2 separate regions of the Homo sapiens genome follow, and region 1 is linked to region 2. The links come from fine-mapping of genetic effects on gene expression. A gene starts in region 2. The other region holds a variant in brackets. All regions are shown on one strand. Distances are from middle to middle.

Evidence for each region. PIP is the estimated chance that this variant, and not a neighbour inherited with it, causes the effect.
Region 1: its variant is fine-mapped to the expression of STRN in regulatory T cells (Bossini-Castillo 2019, PIP 0.95).

Annotation. Positions count from the first base shown.
Region 1 is chr2:36,834,380-36,838,779 of GRCh38, reverse strand. It overlaps STRN (striatin), which reads left to right. Exons shown (of 18, transcript NM_003162.4): 18 at 1-1,082. Among named protein-coding and RNA genes, the nearest start is that of STRN, 130 kb to the left of the region's middle. The variant GTA/A (reference allele first, on the strand shown) is at 1,815.
Region 2 is chr2:36,964,414-36,968,813 of GRCh38, reverse strand. STRN (striatin) reads left to right here and starts at 2,278. Exons shown (of 18, transcript NM_003162.4): 1 at 2,278-2,584. The coding sequence starts at 2,351. RefSeq lists a silencer at 1,788-2,597.

The DNA of each region.
Region 1 (4,400 bases), 130 kb after region 2:
ATAAACATTCCTGTGTATATGTTTGTCACCATGATGGTTTTACGTCTGCGGAATAGATTCCCTGGAGTAGGATTGCTGCATTGAGGAGTATGTATATTTAAATTTTTAAATAAATATTGACAGATTGTTTCCCAAAGTGGCCGGAACAGTTTTTATTTCCATCAGTAAATGTATAAAAACACTTTTCCCTTAATACTCATGGCAATAACTATTGTAACATTAAAAAATACGTAGAAAAAAGAAAAAAATCCTGGTGGATGTAGTGATTTTTCAGTGTTATTTTAATTTCCATTTTCCTGACTACTATAAATGTAGACATCTTTTCAAATGTTTTGGTCATCTGGATTGCACTCAGAACTGAATTATCTATTCAAAGTTCTGTAGGTTAGAACTCCAGGGAAACTCAACTGGGCTGTCTGTTCAAGGCCCAACAAGGCTGAAATGAAAGTGTCTTCCAGGGTGGGTACTCAACTAAAGCTCTGAGGAGGAATTCGCTTCCAGCCTCATTAAAGTCAGAGGATGGAGGTCCCTGTCTCCTAGCTGACTGTCAAATCTGATCCTTTAGAGGTTGCTCCGTGGTCCTTGCACGTGGTCCCTTCCACCTTCAAAGCTTGCCAGGGTGCATCAAATTATTTTTATACTTTGACTCTACTTCTACCAGCCAGAGAAAACTGCTTTTAAAGGGCTCTTGTGACTAGTTTAAGCACACCCAGATTGTTAAGGTCAACTGATTAGTAGCTTTAATTACATCTGCCAAGTCCCTCTGCCCTGCAATGTAACATCAACCATGGAAGTAACATGAGGGGCAGAGTTCATGGGGGCCATCTTAGAATTCTGCCTACCACAAATATTCGTAGTTATACTTTTATATACATTTTTAAATTTTTCTTATTTTTGGTCCATATGTTTGTACCGTTTGTCTTTTTAGTTAACTAGTTTGTGAAAGCATTTTGTATGTTGTACAATATATGTTCAGATTTTCTTATCTTGGATGCAAACATTTTTTTCCAACTCTTGTAAGTTGTCTGTTGACCACATTCAAAAGTACTTTTTCCAAATAAAACTTTGCCTTTTGAATTTCACTTGAGTGAATTGCATATTTGCATTTTAAAATGTTTATTTTGTTATTTTATTAAAGTTTTGCCCATGTTCCACTGTGTTTTTTAAAATTTGCAGGTGCTCTTTTTATACTACATGTAAACCCTTTTTCTTACTATTTGCCAGTGTTTTTCTCCAAAACTATATTATTTTTGTTGACCATGTTTATAATACCTTTTCTCATTTAAAACTTTATATTAGGGCTTGGCAGGGTGGCTCACGCCTGTAATTTCAGCACGTTGGAAGGCTGAGGCAGGAGTATCGCTTGAGCCCAGGAGTTTGAGACTGGCATGGGCAACATAGTGAGACCTCGTTTCTACATACAATTTTTAAAATACTAGCTGAGCATGGTGGCACAACAGTTACCCTGGAGGCTGAGGTAGGAGAATGGCTTGAGCCCAGCAGGTGGAGTCCAGATCGCTCCACTGCACTCCAGCCTGGGCGACAGTGAGATCATGTCCCAAAAAAAACAAACCCGAAAAACTTTTTATTAGTAGATCTTCAAGTATACTTATATATAAAATATAGGCATTTGTGACTATAAGCTTTTGGAAGTATTCTTTATTGATTAAGAAGGTTTCCATTCCTGGGTGGCATGTATAGGCCGCTAGAATGGCTTCTACATTTTTTGTTTTTTGGTTTTGGTTTTCTACATTTATGTCTTTACTCCATTTGTGTGTGTGTGTGTGTGTGTGTGTGTGTGTGTGTGTGTGTGT[GTA/A]GAATGCAAACAGTCCAACTAAATTTCTTCCAAGTGGGTTGCCAGTGTAGCACTCTATTAAACAACCTTTTCCCAATGAATTGAAACACCAGCATTGTCATATATTAAATTTATATATTTAATGAGGTTTATTTCTCAATATGCCATGCTGTTTCACTTACAATTCTCCTTTCATATGACAATATCATATGGATTCAGTTATTGGTGGCCTTATAATATGGTCAGGAGAGCTTTTCCGCTTCCCAAGCCCCTGCCCACTGTTCTTTTTACTGCCTTTGTTGGCTATCCTCAGCATTTGAAGTTTGTAATAATTTAATCCAATTAGGAGTTAAAATTACATTAAATTTACATATTAATTTGGGGAAGTTTGACCCACAATACTGTCTTCCCATCTGAGAACAACATATCATTTTCTGTTTGGATCTTATTTATATCTTTAGTAAGATTTGAGAGTTTAAGTTCTTTGCCTTTAAAAAATTTTTAATATGTTCTTATTTTGGTCACTATTGTGACCATTTTCATTTATAAGAGCTTATTACAAATAAAGAGAGGAGCCAGGTGCATGGCTCATGCCTGTAATCCCAGCACATTGGGAGGCTGAGGTAGGAGGATTGCTTGAGCCCAGGAGTTCCAGACCAGCCTGGGCAAAATAGCAAAACCCCATCTCTTAAAAAAAAAAAAAAAAATTTAAGAAAATACATTTTAAAATACACAGAGAAAATCTGTTTTTGTATGCTTATATACAACAAACATTGTAAATGCTTACTAAATCTCATGAATTATAGCAGGTTTTCACTAGAGTCTCGAGATGTTTAGAAATACAATTGGGACATTCACAAAAATAATTTGATCTTGTCTTTTTCAATGTTTGACTGATTCTTTTTTTGAAATTTTTGTTGTCTAGAAACTCCAATGTGGTGTTGAGTTATAATGGTAAAAGTAGGCCTCCCTGTCTATTATTAACTTTAGTGGAAATGGTTTTGGTATTTAGTTATTTAGAGTATTTTACTTGTTATTTGGTAAATAATCTCTATTTTATTTAAATAGGTTCTTTCCTGTTTTTCCAGGTTTAAAGAATGGCTGCTGAATTTCATCAAATGCCTTCTTAGCATCTTTTGATGTGATCATGAGTTACTCTTCTTTAAGCTGTTGACTAACCAATTGTGTGTATGAAGTTGACATTAAAACATGCTTGCCTCCTTGAAATAAACCCTATTTGGTCATATATGTTGTTGTTTTCATATAAGTCCTTGTTTCAGTTGCTAGTCTTTTATTTGGAGCTTTAGCATGCATATTCATAGATTAGTCTTACTGTTTTATTTAAGGGTCTCTACTTTCAACTTTTCTTTATTCCTTCATTTTAAGTGTGTTTCCTGTAAGCTGCCTATTTCTAGGTCTTCCAGGAAAGAAACTGGCTGGTAGTTTCTTTCAGTGGATATATTGGGTGTTCACTGGTTTTGTTTTATTATGTTCATTATTTTACTTCATTGTTTCTTTTCGTTTTTGCTGGATTGATGAAGTCATTATTCACTTCCTGTCTTTCTCATGTTAATGTGGGATTTCTACTGTGCGTTTCTCTTTCAAAATTATCTTCATTCATAATCAGATATCTTCCTGCTACTCTATGAAAAAACAGAATCACTCTAATCTTCACTAACCCCCTACCAACCTGAAACAAAAAAATGTGATTTTTAGAATACATTCACTTCCTGTGCCTCTCCAAAATAAGTGATGCTTAAAGATGCTGTTACTTTCCCTTTCCCCATTCTTTGTCTGCGTCTTTGGTTTTGCCGTTACAATTTAATTTCTATACTTTTAGACTACTTAAATTTCCATTTCAGGGTCTTATATCAATAATGTTAGTATTTTCCTCGCATATTTCCAGATAGTCTGTCATTATTTTGATAGAGAACCAGTCACATCAGTGTTTCTTAAGCATTTTGGCATTTTAAGTGGGACAATTCTTTGTCATGTAGAACTACCTCTCATGCATTTTGTGTCATGTAGAACTGCCTCCCCTCCCCTCCCCTCCCCTGGCCTCCCCTTGCCAGATGAGGACACAGCAAGAAGGGAGCTATCTGTAAGCCATAAAGAGAGCCTCACCAGAACTCAACCATGGTGGCATCTTGATCTTGGACTTCTAGCCTTCAGACTGAAAAATAAAATTTGTTTATTTAAGTCACCCAGTCTATCATATTTTGTTATGGAAGCCCAAGCTGACTGTATACAGACAGCAAAGGAAATCTTCCCAGAGGCCCTCCAACAGACTTCCCACATATCTCATTGGCCAGAATGTTGGCCTCCTCTACGTTTAAGGGATGTTGAGAAAAAGTATCTCACTTTTCTGCCTCTATAGGAAATAACAAATTCCAGCCAACAAATTCTCTCTGCCACAACTGTCTTTAGTCCTTCATTCCTATTTTGCAATTTCCCTGTTAAAATAATTAATTGGGAGCCATTAGGCTGAGACACCTCCAGCACCTTGGGTTCTTATGTAAGCACAATGTACACAGTAAAATGAAACTTAACCAATCAGAAACTGCCAACTAACCTCTAATTAGGGACTGTCCACTTTAACCAAGCA
Region 2 (4,400 bases):
AGGGGCAGGCCCGAGCATAGGGGATCAAGAGTCCCGTTACAGAATTTTCTGGGGTTTGAATACCCTCTAGAGGTTTCCACTGGTTACTTGGTGTGCGCCCTATGTAAATGAAGAGGATGAAGTAAAGTTACAACGTCATTTAGTTGGTGTGCGCCCTATGTAAGTGGAGAGGACATTTCCTGTTATAGCTGAAGTATTTCCATTTGATTCAGTTCTAGGTAGTCAGCCTGAATCTACTTTACGTTCCCTGCCTCCAGACCCTATTCTCCTGCCTCCTGCCCACAACTCCCAGGCTCCAGTGATCTACCCGCCTCGGCCTCCCAAAGTGCTGGGATTACAGGCGTGAGCCATGGCGCCTGGCCAAAATGTAAATGAGTCCTCGTAAAGCAAAAAAAGTATTGTGAGTAATAAAGTTGAACTACGAATTAAAATAGTTTTTGTATATGTGTGGTAGTCCAGATTATCTATACATTTAATTACATTTTGTGTCTGCTATGAATTGACTTAAAGGAATTGTCGGATATGTCGTCTCACTCAAGGCCTCATTGTTGACAAGTCTCAATTTTTTTGGAATTTAGTTCCTTGAGCTGTAAATGAGAAGACTGGGCTGTATCTCAAAGGACACTGACAGCCAAAATAAGTTATGGCACAGGGAATTTGGCCAGGCCTGGATCAATCTTTGATGATAATAAAGAATGAATTCATAAAGCAGAAACATTAATTAAGCGAGAGAAGAGAGTTCTCCATCTTTATTTGCAACCAGAGCAGACACAATGTGTTTCCTGTCCTTTCTGCAAGTAGCCATGGGAAAGGGGGGGAGGGGAGAGAGGACAGGGACAGGATGTCTTTCCCTGACATGTCACTCAGCAGCCTAGATCTTTACATTTTTTCATGGCCATCAAGTCTGATAACCCACAAGTACGTCCTACAAAACGTAAGAATTTCAGATAACTTGTTAGGGTGACAAAATAAGTGCTTAATTTCATTTGCATTTGTTAAATTGTTTTCAGGGGCCTTCCTTTTTGCCACTGTTGTAGTGTGAATTTATAGTGACATATTGTCAGACTTCGGAGAAGGCAAATATTTACAGAGAGTAACTTGAAAGGACTTTGGTGTACCTTTGGTAGGCGGATGCTGTTGCCAGTTGGCAGGTGAATCGTGAAAGAAACTGGGAACAGGACAAGTGAAAACGGAGAGGGGCCAGGATATCTAAGACCGCGCTAGGGAGCAGAAAGGGAACTTGCTTTTTCAAGGTGGTGTAGCTTTTAAATTAAGCCTTTGTGATATTTGATTATACGCCAATCTTTGATGACAGAAACGATGTCATTTATCTTAATATTCCCAGCGCAAGAGAAAACCGATAATCAAAATATTTGTTCAATTAAGTAGAGTAAAAATCAGCGGGAATAAGATAGGAAAAATGAGACCGAAATAACAGAACATCTATTATTGGATGCTAAAACTTTTACAGGATTTACTGCAGGAGGACTGCAAAGGGAAAGAAACTTCAACGGAGCAGTTTTTCAGATGGGCTGTCAACAAACCACAATTTGGAAGCAGCAGCAGAAAGCTGCGGCGTTGTCTTAGAAAGGTGATCGGCGTTCCTTAGAAATGAAAACTGGTCAGGTAACAGGTTTGAGCCCCTCGAGTCAAAAGAGAAAGGCAAGAGCGACAGCGACCCGCAGATTGGCAGAATGGAGGAGCGTCTAGGGTGAGAGAAACTCCGAACACGAAGCCGAAGCGAGAGCACGCAGGGCAGCTGGCGGGAGAACCCCGGTCCCGCGGCCGCACCGGGTAGCTCGCTTTGAGCCTGTTCCTTCACAGAACGGCCAGGAAGCCTTAAAAGATGTGCAGCTCGGGCAGGTATCTTGGCGTGACAACTTCCGTGTGTGTGTGTGTGTGTGTGTGTGTGTGTTTTTGAATGCAACAGGGTGCGCCGCCCGCGAACTTCCGCGTGCGAGGAAGACTGGAGACCCGCCCGCCCGCGCCCAGCCGGCCCCAGAGGAAACCCGCTCTCCCCGCCCAGCCGGCCCCCTACGCGGCGAGCCGGGGCGGGGCGGGCCCGAGGCCACGCCCAAGCTGAGGCACAGCCCTACAGGCCGCCCGGGCCGCGCTAGCCCGCGCCCCGCCCCGCGACTACATTTCCCGGCAAGCCCCGGGCCGCCAGCGCGCCGCAGTTGACCCATTTCCCGGCCCGTCACGGGCTCGGCCGGCCCCCGCGCCCAGGAGGCTGCTCCCTGCTGACTGGGGTGTGGGCGGGAGCGGCGGAGGGAGGAGGAGGCGCTGCTTGCCGCCGCTGTTGCCTCCGCTGCTGGGCGCCGGGGCAGCTCCCCGGGTATCTGCGGCCGCCATGGACGAGCAGGCGGGTCCCGGCGTCTTCTTCAGCAACAACCACCCGGGCGCCGGCGGTGCCAAGGGGCTCGGGCCTCTGGCGGAGGCTGCCGCGGCCGGCGACGGGGCGGCTGCGGCGGGGGCGGCCCGAGCCCAGTACAGTCTCCCGGGGATCCTGCACTTCCTGCAGCACGAGTGGGCCCGCTTCGAGGTGGAGAGAGCCCAGTGGGAGGTGGAGCGGGCGGAGCTGCAGGTAAAGACCCTCCCGGCCTGGCCGTCTTCATCCCGCCTCTTTGCTCCCTTCCGCCCCGCCCCGGACCCTTCTCCCCCTCCCCCAGCCTTCTCGCGTCCCCTCCCCCTTTGCTGCCGCCCATCCCACCCGGAGCCCCGTCCCCTTCTTCTCTTCGCCTTTTGCCTTTCGCTGACCCCACCTCGACCCTGTTCTCACTCCCGCTCCTGGTGCGTTGTTTACCCTCCCCACGCCTGTTCGTCCGCCCCATCCCACTCTTAACTCCCAGACTCATTTCAACTCTCTGGCCATCCTGCATCTCAGGGCTGCCCTCTCGGTTTACTAATTGGGCTGGCAGTAGTTTTGAGAGACGCGGAGCAAATCGTCCGCTGCCCTGGTGTGCCCCTTCCTAGGTCTAGAGACAGTCTCCGCAGAACGTGCCGGCTTTGGCCCCTCTCTTCAAGGAAGGTGATCAAGAAGACAACAGAAGTTGTGTCAGGCCTTGAGTCGAGGCGAGAAGTTGACGTTGGGCAAAAGTGTTATTCATATATCAGATCCCTTTTTTTATATATGTAAATGTCTGTTCTCCACTTTCTTCCGACCCCCCGGCCCCCTCCCACGTTTCTTTTAGGTATTTCCAATTAATGCATTTTGAATGAAGGACCTAGATGATCGCAGTCAGAGAGAATGGTTAAGAGGTGGTTCCTGTTCTCAGAATCTGAAACTTCCCAAGGGTTAATTTTATGTTCAGTGTTTTGGGAGATTTTCTTGTGCTTTAAAAGGAACTAAAGGGACTTTGAAGTTAGTTACATTGCCTTGCATAATCTGCAAGATAAAGTATATCCAGGGAGGAGATAACTGTGGGCTCTGAAAAGAATGAAAGTGAGGCTGATACTTTACAAGCCATTCAGAATTGGTGAATAGGTTTTCAGTGGTTGTTCTTAAAACTTCCAGGGCATACACACCAATTTCAAAAGGAACTTAAAGAACTATGAATAGTTGTGCCTTTCTGTTTTACGGGCTAAGCCTGTATACTTATGAAATTTGAGTATAGTTTTAGTTGGCAAAACACTTGAGTTTAAAATGCTACCCAGTGTGTCACTTTTTTTGGTAACATGTATTTGGCGCTTAAGAAAAAAAAGAAGAGGAGAAATCTGTTAAATAGAATCATGTGCTGGAACAGGCTCTGGTGTAGTGGAAGTGGCTGTGGAAAGAGCGAACACACAAGGCTGTAGTAGACAAGGTTATAGTAAGGGCTGTGTTTGTTGCTAGCTCTGTGACCTTGAGGAAATCCTTTAACCTCTCTGGGTTTCAGTTTTATCATGTATTTTATTCAGCACCTGTGTATTGAGTGCCAGCTGTGTGTCTAGGCCCTGTGTTGAAAGAAAACCGACCAAGCTTCTGCCCTCATGGAGTTTATGTTTTAGTGGAGAGGCAAACAGTCCAGCAAATGCGCCTATAGAATATAATGGCTTATAGTGGCAACTGCTGTGAGGAAGAAATAAGTCAGAGTTCAGGAATAGCGTGTGATAGGGGCAGCTATTTTAGATGGGGTAGTCAGGGTAGGCCTCTGAGAGATGACAAATGAGCAGCTGAATGAAGTTAGGGAGTGACCAGTAGTTTCTATGATTTCCTTGTAAGTCTGTAGTTACATGTTTATATTATTTGGCAACTTTTTCATTCCTATTGTTATATTGCTGTAGTATTTAGTCGATCTAGTCTATCTGATATTTGCAAGTCTTCTTTGACCTTGTTTATATAGTCTCCAACAAATTTGAATACTTACAGATTGATCTTTATTAGCAGCGCATTCTATAAAAGGTGTGGATTTCAGGATTCA